2 linked regions of the Homo sapiens genome follow. The protein of the gene in region 1 purifies or fractionates together with the protein of each later gene. This does not show direct contact. Each region holds a gene or a part of one and is shown in the gene's direction. Other genes may lie near its edges. The genes, in order: C8orf58 and FCN1.

The links.
Region 2: the proteins of C8orf58 (region 1) and FCN1 purify together in Homo sapiens (affinity purification with mass spectrometry; one large-scale study listed by BioGRID and IntAct). This does not show direct contact.

Annotation. Positions count from the first base shown.
Region 1 is NC_000008.11:22,598,083-22,601,994, forward strand, and holds the start of C8orf58 (uncharacterized protein C8orf58), read left to right. Parts: upstream 1-1,516; 5' UTR 1,517-1,638; coding exon 1,639-1,678; intron 1,679-2,799; coding exon 2,800-3,275; intron 3,276-3,629; coding exon 3,630-3,770; intron 3,771-3,889; coding exon 3,890-3,912.
Region 2 is NC_000009.12:134,905,105-134,908,006, reverse strand, and holds part of FCN1 (ficolin-1 precursor), read left to right. Parts: 3' UTR 1-2,902.

The DNA of each region.
Region 1 (3,912 bases):
GAAAGGAGCAAAGGGAAGGGGATGCACAGACTGTCTTACCCCTCCCGGTAAACAGCCACTTCCTTCCAGTGGCTCTGGCTCCAGCCTCTCCCCTCCCCTAGAGGTCCAGGTGCTAGTCTGCACGTCCTCCAGCTCCCTTATCTGCCTCCGGGGGATTTGGGTCCTGCTGGGATTTTTCCAGCCCTGCCCCCTCCCTCTGGAGGAGGTGCCTTCTTTAGAGGACACCAGCCCCAGTCTGGTCACCAGGCTCTCTCTCATCTTCAGTAGCTTCTTGGGCTCCTTTTAGGTTGGGGACTGAGGGGTGGAATCCCACGGGCCAAAGGCAGGGTGAGGTGGGAACAGGGGGACATTTACACTTTGGCCCAGTCTCCAGGCGGCTCCCCGCTGGCTCGCATCTTTCCAGACCTTGAGACCTACCCAGTCCCCAGCTTTAGGGAGCCCGGGATGAGAAAGAGGCAGGGGACCGGGAGGGGGTTCAGATCTAGCTGAGGACACACGCGCGTTCTGCAGTTGTAAAAGATTTCCCGGTGGGCAGGATCGTTTCCCCTCCCATCGCCCAGGTTTCCGAGCGGCCAAGAGACTGGCCCCCAAGCCACACTGCTAGGGAGCGCCGGGTGCCCGCGTCCTGGTCAGCGCTCTTCCCACCGCCAGCACGTGGGGCTCCCATTTCCTTCCTGGCTCTTGTCCGGTCCTCCAGCCAGCCCCGGCTCTAAGTCCGCGGCAGGAAGACGGACGCTGCGTGTGAACCCGCGGGGCCGGGCGGACCGGCGCCCCGAGCCAGACGGCGTCCCCAGGCGGGGGCCGGGTCCTCGCAGAACAGCTGATCGGGACCCTTATTTTGGCCACAGCCACAGTTGGGGGCGCCACCCAGTCCGTGCCTTCGACCTCGTTCTTGGCGACCCGGCCACCTGCGCCCCCCACCTGGCACCCTTGCCTTCCCTCCTCTCGCCCCTCCCCTCCCTCCTCTCGCCCCTCCCCTCTCCTCTCCCCTCCCCTCCCTCTCCTCTCCCCTCCCCTCCCTCTCCTCTCCCCTTTCCCTCTCCCCTCTCCTCTCCTCCCCTCTCCCCTCTCCTTTCCTCCCCTCTCCCCTCTCCCCTCCCTCTCCTCTGCCCACCCTCTCCTCGCCCCTCCCCTCTCCCCTCCCTCTCCCCTCCCCACCCTCTCCTCTCCCCTCCCCTCGCCCTCCTCTTCCTCGCCCCTCCCCTCCCTCTCCTCGCCCCTCCCCTCCCTCTCCTTTCCCCTCCCTCGCCTCGTTCCTCTCATCCCTCGTCTTGCCCCGCCCCTTTCTCCTCGCCCCCTTCTCCTCGCCCCTCCCCCTTCCCCTCGCCCCTCCCCTCCTCTCGCCGCTCCCCTACCTTGCCTCGCCCCTCCCCTCCCTCGTCTCGCCCCTCCCCTCTCTCCTCGCCCCTCCCTTCCTCGTCTCGCTCTTCCTCTCTCCTCCCCCTAGGCCACGCCCCCCACCGCCCCGCCCCCCGCCCCCCCAGCCCCGCTCCCCGCCCCCCCAGCCCCGCTGGGAGTGTCTGGGGGCCGCGCCCAGCTGGGTCGGGACGCGCTCCCTGAGCTGCCCGAGCTCCGCGGGGACTCGGGCCGGGATCCTCGGGCGGCTGCATTGGCCGGGGCCGGGGCCGGGAGCGGGCCATGATGGGCCGGCGGCGCGCCTTCGCCGTGGACGGCCGGGGTGAGTCACCCACCCCCAGGCTGGCCGGGCTCCCCCCTGCCCCGGAGCCGCTTCCCGCCCCCAAGCCGGGCACCCTCTCTCAGTTTCTTGCCCAGCCCCGCGCACCCCGCGGGCGGAGCCCGCGCCGCTGCGCCTCCCTCGCCGCCTCCCTGGAGGGGCGGTCATCAGGGGACGCCATGCAGGCTGGAACCCCTTTGGGCCCAGGCGTTAAACCAGCCACCGCCTCCGCCCCACTTCCTCCGGCTCCGCTTCCCTCGCCTTCCCGCTCCTTCTGAGGATGTGGGAATCCGCCCGCGCCCCAGCCCCCTCCGTGGCTGCGGACCCCTCTCCCACCCAGTGACCTCCTGGCCCACTTCCTTGCCCAGAGGGGCCTGGGTTGGCATTCGGCTCCCGCGTGCCCCGCAGCTCGTCCCCGCCCCCCTAGCCTGTTTCCCGTACCGTTCATTCCGCCAGGACGCCCCGTCGCCAGAGGGCCTGGCGGAGGTGACAGTGAGGGGGTGCTAATGCTGCCCCTTCGTCCCTTTCTTTCACTTCAGTTCTTTCATTTTAAACTTTTCATAAAATCTTCACTATTGCTCACTTACAACAAAAGCCCAAATCGGTTATAGCGGTGATTTTTATCACTCTCCCGGTGAGCTGCAGGAGAGACTTCACCTGGCATCCTGATGCCGCAGGGGCCCCCAGAGAGCAGGTTGGATCCCAGGCTTTCCTCTCTGTACCCTCTCCCCTCTCCCTGAAGCTGGATACAGTCCTACTCCCGCTTGGGGAGCAGCGGAAGAGCCTGTGGCTCCCTACTTCTGACTCGGGAGATCGTGGGCTGATCCTAGGTGGGAAGCGCAGGCGCAGGCCGTCTAAGGGATTGATGGATGTGGCCTGCCAGGGCTTTGCCTACCACACAGCTCAGAGCACGGGTTCCCTGTCGCTAACAACCGTTGCGAAGGGAATCCCATCCACACATCTCCCAGACAGCTGGGGCCATATCCGGGCTGCCCGTGGCTGTCCAGTGACCGCCCTTCCTCACTGCTCCGGGACACTTCTCCCTGGGGCAGTGCTGCCAGCCTTCAGGAATGCTGGGGGTGTTGGGGGTGGCCTGCCCAGCCTGACGCTGACTCTCCATGCAGATGGGGCTGGCGAGGGCCTGGCACGGGGCTGCATAGTGCCTGGAGTCACCAGCACCTACAGACGGATCCCCGACGCTGCCCACGGGTGCTCATCCTGGGAGAGAGGTGACAAGTTCAGAGGTGTCGGCAGGGAGGCACTCTTTCTCAAACTGGCCTCCCGGGACTCAGGAGTGGAGATGGCAGTTGGGGACAGCCCCCTGGCCGCCTTACCGGGCCTTTCTCAGGACTCCCTGGACTTTGAATCCTCAGGGAGTTCTGAGCCCCCCGCCCAGGTAGGCCGACTCCTGGCCAGCCAGAAGCTGGGGGAGGTGTTGGAGCGGTCCCGCCGGCTCCCAACAGCTCCCACCAGCTTGTCAGGACAACACCGCTCCCTGCGGCTGGCAAGCAAGCCTGAGCGTGAAGTGCCCCTTGGAGCAGGGCAACAGGAGTCCATGGAGGCAGACACAGACCTAGAGGCAGGCCTGGAAGAAGAGGCGGTGAGTGCTCACTCTCAGGCTGGGTTTAAGAGTGGGATGGACAGCCTAGCTCCTCTGGTTCTCCCTGGAGCTCTCTCTGGGTGGGGCACTCCCTGCCCCTAATTGATGGGTTGTGTCATAGGTTCTTTCTGCACCCCAGTTCCATTTGTGCACGGCCACCTCTGCAGAGGAGGTGGGCAGCTACGGGGGCCCTTCCTGGCACTATGCCCCGCTGGGCAGTGGGGAAGCCGGCTGCGTGTGTTCCTCCTCGGGGCCCACTCTGCTCCCATCTGCTGGCTGAGCCCAGCCTGGCTGCTTAGGGTAGGGCAGGAGCCCTACTGGCTGAAATCTCCCCTATCTCACAATGTCCCACAGGTGGGGGGCCTGGGGCCTGGAGCCTGGGCCTGCCTCCCCGGGCAGGGTCTTCGCTATCTGGAACACCTGTGCCTGGTGCTGGAGCAGATGGCAAGGCTCCAGCAGCTCTACCTGCAGCTGCGGATCCAGAGGCCCCCAGGGGTGAGTGAGATTCGAGTGGGGGAGGGAGAGGACAGATGGGACCCTGGGAACCATGGCTGCCCTCAGAGCAGCTTCAGCCCTCTAGCCAGGCCCTGATCACCTGTCTCTCCTGTGCATAGGATCCCGGCGAGGAGGAGTCGAC
Region 2 (2,902 bases), on another chromosome or scaffold:
ATCAACTGTTGGAGAAGAAGACACACAGTCCTCTAACCTGCCAGTCCCACATCAGGGCCTGGATATGGCCGTCATGTGTACCAGGGAGCATGGCCAGGAATCTTTACAGCCAAATACTCACCATAGCACCAAACTGGAATCAGCCGACATACCCATCAGGAAGAGAATGGATGTTAAAAAATGCAAGGATAGCCATTGGGTAGAACGCCATACAGCCATGACAATTACACAGTGACACCTACACACAAGGAGCATGAGTCTCACAAACATGGCAGCAAAAGGAGCCTGTTCAAGAGGGTATGTGCTATGGATTCCATTGTAGATAAAGTTTTTCAAAAGCAAAAGTAGCCAATGGTATTTTGGATGCATATTTAGGTGGTAAATGTATACAGGAAAAATAAGAAAGTGATTGTATTTGAGGGTGGGACCACATGGTGACTGGGAAGGGACAGGGACAAGCCTCTGGGGTTCTGGCAATGCTCTGTTTCTTGACCCAGGTGGTGATTGTAAGGATGTTTGTTAACTAGTGATGAAAATAATTAAGCTGTACTTTTGCTTTATACACTTTTGAGTACATGTTATGTTCCACAATTTAAAAACTACTTATAAAGAAACTGCACATGCTTGGATCCAGGAACATGAGCTACAGGCACATCCTCCACTGATGCCCAGTGTTCTTGACTCAATACCTGTAAGGAGAGGTCCTTGTAGCCCATTGGGGGCTGACCAGACCCTACTACGCCCCTGCCACAATCTCTAGTCCATCACAAAATCCACTATTGGGATAGTACTTTCGTCCCTCAGTAGGTAAGCATTTTTACAACCTAGGAAGACTTAGCTTTAAGTCTAGAAATGATTAGTATAAATATAAAATATAAATATGATTAATATAAATATAAAATAGCCATAGAAATATGCCTTTTAGTTTGTTTTTTGAGACAGAGTTTTACTCTGCCACCCAGGCTGGAGTGCAGTGGCGTGATCTCAGCTCACTGCAATCTCCACCTCCCAGGTTCAAGAGATTCTCATGCTTCAGCCTCCCAAGTAGCTGGGATCACAGGCACACACAACCATGCCCAGCAATTTTTTTGTATTTTTAGTAGAGATGGGGTTTCGCCGTGTTGGCCAGGCTGGTCTTGAACTCCCGACCTCAAGTGATCCACCCGCCTCTGCCTCCCAAATTGCTGAGATTACAGGCGTGAGACACTGTGCCTGGCCAAAATATGCCTTTTGTATTAAGGAATCTGGACAGGTTTGATTTTTCACAGTCTTGTAATGTTTAAATAATTTGGCCTATTATGAAGAATCTCACAAATCCAATATAAAATGTGGAACTAACTAATCAAAATCATCTTGTAATATTACATGGAAATCTTAGTGCGTTTATACACGGTATTGGCATATTTAAGAGACTTTGAGCTCATTGCATTTCTAAGTTAAATTATTAGATTTCTTAAGATTTAAGTTAAATTATTAGATTTTTAAAGATTAATTAGTGCTAAGGAGGGTTTTCTCATTAGACAGCTGAAATGCCGCAGGAGAAATTTGAGTGTATTCCACTTCTTATTGCAATTTTAAATGTTTGAAGTTATTTAAAGAACTAAATTTATGGTATCCAAAAGCTCTAAAAAGGTGACTCTTAAGATTTGCAGGTCTTATAAATAGAAAAACAAGAACTGTAAGCCAAACTTAAAATATTCAGGATGAATTGAGTTTTTGAATTTGTAGCTTTCAGAAACTGAACATTAATTTTAAGAAGCAAAGCAGGCTGGGCACAGTGGCTCACGCCTGTAATCCTAGCACTTTAGGAGGCTGAAGTGGGTGGATCACTTGAGATCAGGAGTTCAAGACCAGCCTGGCCAACATGATGAAACCTCCTCTCTACTAAAAATACAAAACTCCGCCAGAAATCGCTTGATCCCGGGAGGTGGAGGTTGCAGTGAGCTGAGATCGTGCCACTGCACTCCAGCCTGGGGAACAGAGCGAGATTCCGCCTCAAAAAAAAAATAAAAATAAAAAGAAGAAGAAGAAGAAGGAGAAAGAGGGAGAGGGAGAGGGAGAGGGAGAGGGAGAGGGAGAGGGAGAAGAAGAAGAAGAAGAAGAAGAAGAAGAAGAAGAAGAAGAAGAAGAAGAAGAAGAAGAGGAAGAGGAAGAGGAAGAGGAAGAGGAAGAGGAAGAGGAAGAAGAAGAAGAAGAGGAAGAAGAAGAAGAAGCAGCAGCAGCGGCCAGGCGCGGTGGCTCACGCTTGTAATCCCAGCACTTTGGGAGGCCGAGGCGGGCGGATCACAAGGTCAGGAGATCAAGACCATCCTGGCTAACATGATGAAACCCCGTCTCTACTAAAAATACAAAAAAATTAGCCGTTCATGGTGGGGGATGCCTATCGTCCCAGCTACTCGAGAAGCTGAGGCAGGAGAATGGCGTGAACCCAGGAGGCAGAGGTTGAAGTGAGCCGAGATCGCACCACTGCACTCCAGCCTGGGCGACAGAGCGAGACTCTGTCTCAAAATAAAAGAAGCAAAGCAAGCTTATGAAGAGATGAAGAGTCTTTTCCCATCACCAATTCCTCCCCAACTCACATCAGCAGAACTGAGAGAGCTTTTGTGATTTGAGGGATAAAGCTGAATGGGTGAAAAGAAATCAAGCCCTCCTCCTCTTGGGCCAGTGCTCTTCTTCCTGGCCATGGGACCTCTCAAGTAGGAGTGTAGGCGTGGGCCCATCCAGCAACATTTGGGCATTCGTGGACATCCACATAGTGTTGTTTCTGTTCTTTTCCTCTCCTTCCTCATCTTCTCTCGTCTTTGTTGAATATTTTTATTATCCCGTCACCTCCTCTATCAGCTTATAACTTGTTCATTCTTTTCCTATCTTTTGGTGTTTATGCTTGCGATTGCAATATATA